Linked DNA regions of Homo sapiens: region 1 is linked to region 2. The links come from fine-mapping of genetic effects on gene expression. A gene starts in region 2. The other region holds a variant in brackets. All regions are shown on one strand. Distances are from middle to middle.

What was found. PIP is the estimated chance that this variant, and not a neighbour inherited with it, causes the effect.
Region 1: its variant is the best candidate, but not a certain one, in a credible set for the expression of TMC7 in tibial nerve (GTEx, PIP 0.89).

The regions. Positions count from the first base shown.
Region 1 is chr16:19,003,247-19,008,618 of GRCh38, forward strand. All of the region lies in intron 1 of TMC7 (transmembrane channel like 7), which reads left to right. Among named protein-coding and RNA genes, the nearest start is that of TMC7, 22 kb to the left of the region's middle. The variant A/G (reference allele first, on the strand shown) is at 2,398.
Region 2 is chr16:18,981,789-18,987,160 of GRCh38, forward strand. It overlaps TMC7 (transmembrane channel like 7), which reads left to right and starts at 2,146. Exons shown (of 16, transcript NM_024847.4): 1 at 2,146-2,342. The coding sequence starts at 2,276. RefSeq lists a silencer at 2,057-2,116.

The DNA.
Region 1 (5,372 bases), 21 kb after region 2:
GAGGATCGCTTGAGCCCAGGAATTCAGGTTACACTCCAGCCTGGGCAATAGAGCAAGACCCTATCTCAAAAAAAATAAAAAATACCAGGGCAACGGCCGCCCCTACTGGGAAGTGAGGAGCCCCTCTGCCCGGCCAGCCGCCCCGTCCGGGAGGGAGGTGGGGGGGGTCAGCCCCCCTGCCCGGCCAGCCGCCCCGTCCGGGAGGTGAGGGGCGCCTCTGCCCGGCCGCCCCTACTGGGAAGTGAGGAGCCCCTCTGCCCGGCCACCACCCCGTCTGGGAGGTGTGCCCAACAGCTCATTGAGAACGGGCCAGGATGACAATGGCGGCTTTGTGGAATAGAAAGGCGGGAAAGGTGGGGAAAAGATTGAGAAATCGGATGGTTGCTGTGTCTGTGTAGAAAGTAGAAGACATGGGAGACTTTTCATTTTGTTCTGCACTAAGAAAAATTCCTCTGCCTTGGGATCCTGTTGATCTGTGACCTTACCCCCAACCCTGTGCTCTCTGAAACATGTGCTGTGTCCACTCAGGGTTAAATGGATTAAGGGCGGTGCAAGATGTGCTTTGTTAAACAGATGCTTGAAGGCAGCATGCTCGTTAAGAGTCATCACCAATCCCTAATCTCAAGTAATCAGGGACACAAACACTGCGGAAGGCCGCAGGGTCCTCTGCCTAGGAAAACCAGAGACCTTTGTTCACTTGTTTATCTGCTGACCTTCCCTCCACTATTGTCCCATGACCCTGCCAAATCCCCCTCTGTGAGAAACACCCAAGAATTATCAATAAAAAAATAAATTTAAAAAAAAAAAAAAAAATACCAGGGCAAGTGAAGCCCTCTGTGCTTACCTCTGCAGGTTGGCGTGAGAAATGAGGTGACGTCATGCTGGGAAAAGTGTGTGTTATATGCAAACGAGGGGGTGGATCCTAGTTATAAAAATAATGATGCCTGTGTTCAAAGACATGGTCGTGACATTTTTTGTTTGAAGTTGAGGAACTTCCCTGGAGTGTCTAAAGAGGAAAAATCAGAACAGTTCTTCCTAGGAGGGGGTAGGTGGTGTATGAAAAACAGGATAATTACCTAGTTGATTTGTATGGAATTTTATTTTTATTTTTATTTATTTATTTGTATATATTTTTTGGGATGGAGTCTTGCTCTGTTGCCCAGGTTGGAGTGCAGTGGCGTGATCTCGGCTCACTGCAACCTCCGCCTCCTGGCTTCAAGCAATTCTCCTGCCTCAGCCTCCTGAGTAGCTGGGATTACAGGCACTTGCCACCATGCCTGGCTGATTTTTCTAGTTTTAATAGAGACGGGGTTTCACCATGTTGGCCAGGCTGGTCTTGAACTCATGACCTCAAGTGATCCACCTGCCTCAGCCTCCCAAAGTGCTGGGATTACAGGCGTGAGCCACCGTGCCCAGCTTATACGGTATTTTAACATTTACAAACACTTTTAAATCCATGGCCCCCTGAATTTTTTCATGGTGAAGACTACAGCTTTGGGGTCTGATAAACCTGTGATGGGTTCCTAGTTCCAACACTTACTGTGTGAGCAAGCAACACTTACTAATTGTCTGAGCCTCAGTTATTAATCTGTAACATGGAGATAATTCTTTTGTTTGTCTTTTGGGTTTTTTTTTTCTTGGAATTGGAGTCTTGTTATGTTGACCAAGCTGGTCTTGAATTCCTGGGCTCAAGCAATCCTCCTGCTTTAGCCTCCCAAAGTAGCTGAGACCACACCAGCACAATGGGGATAATTCTCTCTAAAGAGTAGTTCGGAGTATTAAGTGTGACGATGCATGTTAAATACTTTATTTTATTTATTTATTTATTTATTTATTTATTTATTTATTTATTTATTTTCTGAGACGGAGTCTCGCTCTGTCGCCCAGGCTGGAGTGCAATGGCAAAATCTTGGCTCACCACAAGCTCTGCCTCCTGGGTTCACGCCATTCTTCTGCTTCAGCCTCCCAAGTTAGCTGGGACTACAGGCACCCGCCACCATGCCCGGCTATTTTTTTGTATTTTTAGTAGAGATGGGGTTTCACCATGTTAGCAGGATGGTCTTGATCTCCTGACCTCGTGATCCACTCGCCTCGGCCTCCCAAAGTGCTGGGATTACAGGCGTGAGCCACCACGCCTGGCCCGCATGTTAAATACTTTAAATGGCCTGGTACAAGGTAGGCAAGTACTCAATAAATCTTAGCCAGTGTTGTTCATGTTGTTTGCAACTCCTTCCTCACCATCATGCTGATGAGGCCCATGGTATTAGATCCTCCATTCCCGAGATGAGAAAAATGTGACTCTGAGGCAGCTGTGGTCTCTCCTGGGGTGGCTTGGCTGGTGGGTGACAGGCCAGTATTTTAAACCAACCCAGGCTCCAGCCTGGGGCCCCTGACCCC[A/G]CAGCTGTTGAATATTCAGTAGGTCCATGCTGTTCTATATTCAAAGACCTTTGTTTGTGGCTAATAATAGCTCTTTGTTTCTGCTTGCAGGAGGGTAGCCTCCATGCAGGGCTTAGACCCTTTTCCTTTTCAGGGACCACACCCACCCTACCCTCATATTGGCTCTAGGGAGCCACTGCCACTAATGGAAGTGTGTCATATCCTCAGGGTGTGCCAGGCAGGGAGGTAGAAGGGTGGGTGAGGCTCGTAGACTTGCACATGGTGATTGGCAGGGCCCCAGCCACGTGTCCATGTGTCATCTACAGTGGGACAGCTGCTCCATTGTGTCTGAACTTGCCTATCCGAGAAAGGCAAAGATTACAGTGTCAGAGCCAGGCCTTGACCGGTCCCCACCTGGCCCTGCCCCTGCCCATCCTCATCCGGTTGGTGCCTTTATGGAGCTCTGTGTGTGCCGAGCACTGCCTGGGACCTTCTACCCATGTGATCCCCTTTAATGTTCATAAACAGGCTGTGTAGCAAGTCCTGACCCCAGCCTTGCCCTTGCAGCCTCCAGGGTGACCTTTTTTTTTTTTTTTGGACGGAGTTTCGCTCTTGTTGCCCAGGCTGGAGTGCAATGGCACGATCTCGGCTCACTGCAACCTCCGCCTCCTGGGTTCAAGCGATCCTAAATAGCTGGGATTACAGGCACGCGCTAGCGTGCCCAGCTAATTTTGTATTTTTAGTAGAGACAGCGTTTCTCCATGTTGGTCAGGCTGGTCTTGGACTCCCAACCTCAGGTGATCCCCTTGCCTTGGCCTCCCAAAGTGCTGGAATTACAGGCGTGAGCCACCGTGCCCGGCCCAGGGTGACCTTTTAAAATGCAGTCAAAGCACAACATCCCAAGGTCCTGCCACAGTCTACAAAGCCTGACTTGGTTCGACCCCAGCCACCCCTCTGACTTTAACGTTTCCATTCTCCCTGTCCTAAATACCTATTGTTGCTCAACACACTGCTCCAAATGTGCTGGCTTAAGCCATGTTGTTATTTCTGCTGATTCTGTGCATCAGGGACGATGCAGGGCACGGGGGAGCCCGCTTGCACTGCTGCCTGGGATGTCTGCTGGCGCTGGAGCACCCAAGATGGCCTCATCATGGCGATGCCTGGTGAGGATGCCCCAGGGGTTTTTTTTGTTTTCTTTTGTTTTGCTTTTTTGAGACAAAGTCTTGCTCTGTCGCTTAGGCTGGAGTGTAGTGGTCCAATTTCGGCTCACTGCAACCTCTGCCTCCCAGGTTCAAGCTATTCTTCTACCTCAGCCTCCTGAGTAGCTGGGATTATAGGCGCGTGCCACCACGTGCAGCTAGTTTTTTTTTTTTTGTATTTTTAGTAGAGATGGGATTTCACCATGTTGGCCAGGCTGGTCTTGAACTCCCCACCTCAGGTGATCCGCCTGCCTCGGCCTCCCAAAATGCTGGGATTACAGGTGTGAGCCACCGTGCCTGGCTGTCCCAGGGGTTTGAAGACACGAGCCTGGGGCCTTGGTTCTTGCAGTCACCCAGGTTGTTGGTTCTTTTTGTAGGCTTAGGGGCTCTTCCTCTCCACCTCATTGTCCTAGGCAGTTGGACTTCCTACCAGGTAACCCTGGCCCGAGAACACAGAAGTGGCTACTGCAAGGCCCTCTTATGACTTTGGGCTGGAAATGGCAGAGCATTACTTCCATTGAGTCCTTTGGTTAAAGCAAGCACAGGTCCTGTGCAGATTCAAGGAGGGGACCACGCAGAGGGCCAGGCCAGTGTGGCTCATTGGAGGCCACCAACGAAACCGCCCACCAGGTTCTTGCTCATTAACTCTTCCTCCAACCTGTCACACACTCTTCTGCCGCTGGGCCTTTCCACTTATGGGTTCCCTCTGCCTGGGGTGCTTTTCCCCAAATATCCAGGGGTCTCACCCCTTCCCTTCATTCAGCCTTAGCTAAATGTCACCTTTAAAGAGAGACCGAGATCACGTGCCACTGCACTCCAGCCTGGGTGACAGAGCGAGACTCCGTCTCAAAAAAAAAAAAAATAAATAAATAAAATAAAGAGAGACAATACCTGACCCCACCTTATCAAAAACAGTTTACCCCTCTCATATCACCTCTGTCCCCTGACACCACTCTGTTCTTTTTTTTTTTTTTCATTACACTTATCACTTCCTGGCATAATATTTACTGCCTGTTTATTATTTGATATCCCTCTCCCTCATCTCAGAATATAACTGCCGCGTGAGTAGGGCACTTGCCTTGTTCACTGCAGTTCCCTTAGTTCCAGATATGACATATGGTAGATAGAGTTGTTGAATGAGTATTTGAGATGAGGAAACTGAGTCTTAGAAAGGTTAAGTAACTTTCACAAAGACATACAGCTAATAAGTGACAGAGTGGGGATCCAAACTCAAGCATTTGGCATTGATCATGAAGCTTTGCTGCATAGAAGCTTTGCTGCATAGGGGTAATTGCTTAGGTAATTATGGCTGCCTGCCCCCTCTTCTCCCTGAGTCCTGTCTGTCTCCACTCAGAGTGATCTTCCTGCAACTAAAATCTGATCAGGGATAAAACCCATCTTGAAGGTAGCTTCCCTCCCCTTCAGCAGAAAGCCCGCCTGCCTTAGCCTGCTGCCCAAGACACAGCAAAGCTTGGCTTCTAGCTCTGGCCTGATATAGAAACGATAAGGGTTTTGGAGTCAGCCCTGGCTTTGTCTGCAGTGCTCCCAATCACCAGCTCTCTAAATGCAAGCAAATTAGGAATGTCATTCATTCTGAGTGTCTGTGGTTAGCAGGGCGGTCAAGCTGGCTGAAGACTGGTCTGGAGCGGCCTCAGCTGGGGCAGTCATCCCACATAGTCTCATCTTCCAGCAGGCTAGCTCAGGCTTGTTCTGGCTGGGCTCCAGAGACAAGCAGAAGTCTGCAAGACCTCCTAAGGCTGGGCTTAGAACTGGCCCAGCATCACTTCTGCTGTGTTC
Region 2 (5,372 bases):
TTTGGAGAGATGGGGTCTCACTGTGTTGCTCAGGCTAGTCTCCAACTCCTGGGCTCAAGCCATCCTCCTACCTCAGCCTTCTAAAGTGCTGGGATTATAGGCATGAGCCACTGCGTCCAGCCTTTTTTTTTTTTGAGACGGAGTCTCACTCTGTTGCTCAGGCTGGAGTGCAGTGGCACAATCTCGGCTCACTGCAAGCTCCGCTTCCTGGGTTCAAGCAATTCTCTGCCTCAGCCTCCTGAGTAGCTGGGGTTACAGGTGCCCACCACCATACACAGCTAATTTTTTGTATTTTTTTTAGTAGAGACAGGGTTTCACCATCTTGGCCAGGCTGGTCTCGAACTCCTGACCTTGCGATCCACCTGCCTTGGCCTCCCAAAGTGCTGGGATTACAGGCATGAGCCACCACACCCAGTCTCCAGCCTCCTTTTTTTTTTTTTTTAAATGACCTTGACAGTTTTGAGGAATACTAATCAGGTATTCTGTAGAATGCCCCTCAGTTGAATTTGTCTGATATTTTTCTTATGACCACAGAGGTAAAGTGCCCTTCTCATCCCATCGTAGGAAGGGTGCACACCATCCTCATGGCTTAATGTTGATGTTAACTTATTTACTTATTTACTTTTTTTTTTTGAGATGGAGTCTTACTCTGTTGCCCAGGCTGGAGTGCAGTAGTGCAATCTCGACTCACTGCAACCTCCGCCTCCTGGGTTCAAGAGATTCTCCTGCCTCAGCCTCCCTAGTAGCTGGGATTACAGGCGCCCGCCACCATGCCCAGCTAATTTTTTTGTATTTTTGGTAGAGACAGGGTTTCGCCATGTTGGCCAGGCTGGTCTCGAACTCCTGACCTCAAGTGATCCACCTGCCTCGGCCTCCCAAAGTGCTGGGATTACAGGTGTGAGCCACTGATCCCGGATGATGTTAACTTTGATCATCTGTCTGAGACAGTGTTTGTCAGGTATTATCTAATATAAAACCCACCCTCACCCTCTTCCACCACCACTTCCATACTGCACTCTTTTGGAAGGATGTCGCTATGGGCAACTCACACTTAAGGAGTAGGGAGCTAAGCTCCCCATCCTTAAAGTATCTACGTAAATGATTTCAAAATCTGCACAGGAGATTTCTCTCCATTTTCCCCATTTATTTATATTTAGCAATTACTTTTCTTTTTCTTTTTTTTTCTGAGATGGAGTCTCCTTCTGTCGCCCAGGCTGGAGTGCAGTGGCGTGATCTCGGCTCACTGCAACCTCTGCCTCCTGGGTTCCAGCGATTCTCCTGCCTCAGCCTCCCTGGTAGCTGGGACTACAGGCATGCACTACCATGCCAGGCTAATTTTGTATTTTTAGTAGAGACAGGGTTTCACCGTGTTGGCCAGGATAGTCTCGAACTCCTGACCTCAGGTGATCCTCCCGCCTCGGCCTCTCAAAGTGGTGAGATTACAGGTGTGAGCCACTGCGCCTGGCAATTTTATGTTTTTAACCTGCACACGAACAGAGGTAGAGATGAAACGAGGATATAGTGCAAAACGTAAAAGACAAACACTGCACGTGGTTTTCTCTTCACTCGGCCCTCTAGCTCCCCACCCAGAGCTACCACAGGTAGCCAGTTTTTTGCACCCTCTAGGGAGATAGCTTAGGCATTTACAAGCATGTACAAATATATTTTTTGGTTTCCTTTTTGTTCCCAAATGGTAACTTACTAGATGCACTGATTTGGAGTCTTGGGGTTTTTTGCGTGTGGACTTTTTATTTTTTAATTTTAAAGATGGGGGTCTCACTGTGTTGGCCAGGTTGGTCTCAAACTTGTGAGTTCGTGCGGTCCTCCAGCCTCGGACTCCCAAAATGCGAGGATTACAGACGTGAGCCACCACTCCCAACCAGTTATTTTTGTTATTTATTTCTTTATTAGATCAGGTTTGATTTTAGATGCAGGGGGTCCATGTGCATGTTTGTTACATGGGTGTACCGGGTCCTGGTGGAGACTGGGCTCCCAGTGCGCCCAATCTATTGTTATTTTTTAAGCTCAGTGAGACATCAGGGAGGTCGCTGCTTGTCGCCACCGCTGGATGGAGCCTTGCCGGATCTCCCGGGCTCTGCAGCCCCTCTGCGGTCCCTGATGCTCGGCTCCTCGCGGGGGCGCCCCACTCCGGCTTCTGTGATGTCAGCGCCGGAACCTGGAATCCCGGCTCCGCGAGGGAAGGCCGGGGAGGCGGCGGCGGCGGCGGCGGCTGGAGAGGGTCCTCGGCAGCCTCTGAGGAGCGCGGGGCGCGGCCATGAGCGAGTCCAGCGGCAGTGCGCTCCAGCCCGGCAGGCCCAGCCGGCAGCCGGCGGTCCATCCAGGTAGGGCGGCAGGGAGCGCGCGCGGGGACGGTGCCCCTGGGGTCCGAGGGCGCACGGAGGGAGCCGGGTGCTGGAGGCTCGGCCTGGCCGCTGTTCCCTCCCACCCCCGACGCCGGGTGCTCCCGGCTCTGGGGAACAGCAGGTGGGAAGGAGATCTTCCTTATTCCTGCTCCCTCCACAAACGCGTCCTCATCCAATCCAGTGGAACCCAGCCGGGCCAAAAGGACACGAGAACTGCAGTCTGGACCGTGGTGGGTTTGTCTTCCAGCTGTTGACCGAGACAGTCTTTCAATAGCCTCATCTGCTGTTAAATGAAAGGATTTGAGCACCCCCTCCACGCCTAACATTCTGGTATGAGGTGCCTGCCTCCCGGACATTTCAGCCTTCACATACAGTTAGACCAACTTGAAACCGAATTCTGCCTTGTCTGTTTATTGCTGTGGGACCTTTGGTAAGTGGCTTGCCTTCTCTGAGCCTCAGATCCTTCAGCAGTAAAATGGGAATAGAATGGGGCGGGGATTAGCTGAGAATCGTGTGATGTGTCTAGCACAGTGCCTGGCATTGTGGCTAGACAGTCACAATAAATGGTAGCCAGCCAAGTATTATAATCTTTTGTATCGGGTAGAATTACAGTAAAGTATACAGCTCCATGAATTTCTACAGAAATATGTACAACGGCTGCCCAGTCAGGATAAAAAAGTTGCCAGCACTCAGGCAGGGTTCCTTGTAGCATTTGGAGCTTACGAATCTTGTCCTGAACAAAACACAAGACCCTGCTGTAAAGTTTTATCTGCAATGTTTTCTCTTTTTCAGTTTTAGAATAGAGATTTACTGAAACCAAGGATGTAGGGCCGGGCGTGGTGGCTCACGCCTGTAATCCCAGCACTTTGGGAGGCTGAGGCGGGTGGATCACGAGGTCAGGAGTTCAAGACCAGCCTGGCCAAGATGGTGAAACCCCATCTCTACTGAAGATACAAAAATTAGCCAGGAGTGGTGGTGGGTGCTTGTAATCCCAGCTACTTGGGAGGCTGAGGCAGAGAATAGCTTGAACCCGGGAGGCGGAGGTTGCAGTGAGCCGAGATTGCGCCACTGCACTCCAGCCTGGGCGACAGACCAAGACTGTTTCAAAAAAAAAAAAAGAAACCAAGGATATAGAATAAAACATGAGTGTAGATTTGGTCATTGAGGCCTTCAAATTGGATTGTTCCCAATGTCCAGAAGAAAAAAAAAATTTAGAAGAGACCCAAATCAGAAAACAAAAGTTGGGGTGGATTCAATGCGAATTATTTTCTAGCTCAATATTAATACTGCTTATGTCAGCTGAATTTCAGCCTTTCAATAACAGCTAGTCAAGTATTTTTTTAGTTGGTTCCTATTAATAGTCATCTTATTTTAGTGGAATCCATTATATTGAAGATGTCAAGTTCCTCATTTCCCATACAAAGAATGTGAGATTCATCTTTCTTGCATCTTTGCTAAGTGTATGAGGGGACTTTTGGCATCTTTTCAGGAGGACTATAATTGGGCCCTCTAACTAAAAAGTCTTCTATGCCCCTTAGATAGATGAGTTTTTTTTTTTTTTTTTTGATCTTGTACCCACCAACATTGGTGGGAGGCTCAGAAGGGACTGTGTTTGTAACTTTGTAGCACTTTCTAAACAGTGACCTGTTGTATGGGCATTATAGGACAGTCCGTGGGGTGGGGCGGGGGATGGGGGAGGCGACAAATGAGGTCTGGTTTAAAGAATGAGAAGTGTGACCAGGCATGGTGACTCATGCCTGTAATCCAGCACTTTGGGATGCTGAGGCAGGAGGATCACTTGAGCCCAGGAGTTTGAGGTTACAGTAAGCTATGATTATGACACTGGGCTCCAGCCTGGGTGACAGAACTAGACCCTGTCTCTAAAAAAAAAAGAAGAGGTATGTATCCTTCTAAATGATAAAACAGATCACTCCCCTGCTTACATAAAACTTTCCGGTGGCTGGCCAGGCACAGTGGCTCACACCTGTAATCCCAGCACTTTGGGAGGCCGTGGTGGGCAGATCACGAGGTCAGGAAATCGAGACCATCCTGGCTAACGTGGTGAAATCCTGTCTCTACTAAAAACACAAAAAATTAGCCAGGTGTGGTGGCATGCACCTGTAGTCCCAGCTACTCGGGAGGCTGAGGCAGGAGAATCGCTTGAACCCGGGAGGTGGAGGTTGCAGTGAGCCGAGATTGTGCCACTGCACTCCAGCCTGGGTGACAGAGACTCTGTCTGAAAAAAAAAAAAAAAAAAAGATGGGTATGGCGGCATGTGCCTGTAATCCCAGCTACTGGGGAGCCTGAGGCAGGAGAATCGCTTGAACCTGGGAGGCAGAGGTTACAGTGAGCCGAGGTTGCACCACTGCAGTCTGCCTGGGTGACAGAGCTAGACTCTGTCTCAAAAACAGAAAAACAACTTTCCGGTGGCTTCTCACTGCTCTGAGAATAAACTCCAGGCTCTTCCATCGCAACCAACAGGATCTGGTGATTCGACCCCAGCCCCTCTTTCCAGGCCCTCATCACCTTGATCCTCCCTTAACCTATCCTGCTCTAGCTGCACTGGCTGCCTTCCTATTCCTCCAGCATACCAAGATTGTTTCTGCCTCAGGGTCTTTGCATCTGCTGTTCTCTTCGCCTGGACTCCTCTTGGTTCTTTTTTTTTTTCTTTGAGATGGAGTCTTACTCTGTCGCCCAGGCTGAAGTGCAGTGGCGCGATCTCGGCTCACTGCAAGCTCCGTCTCCCGGGTTCATGCCATTCTCCTGCCTCAGCCTCCCGAGTAGCTGGGACTACAGGCATCCGCCACCACGCCTGGCTAATTTTTTTGTATTTTTAGTAGAGACAGGGTTTCACCGTCTTAGCCAGGATGGTCTCGATCTCCTGACCTCGTGATCCGCCCGCCTGGGCCTCCCAAAGTGCTGGGATTACAGGTGTGAGCCACCGTACCCGGCCATAGAGCAGCCTCTTCCTTTTCCTGTTGGGTCTCTACTCAAATGTCATGTCAGAGA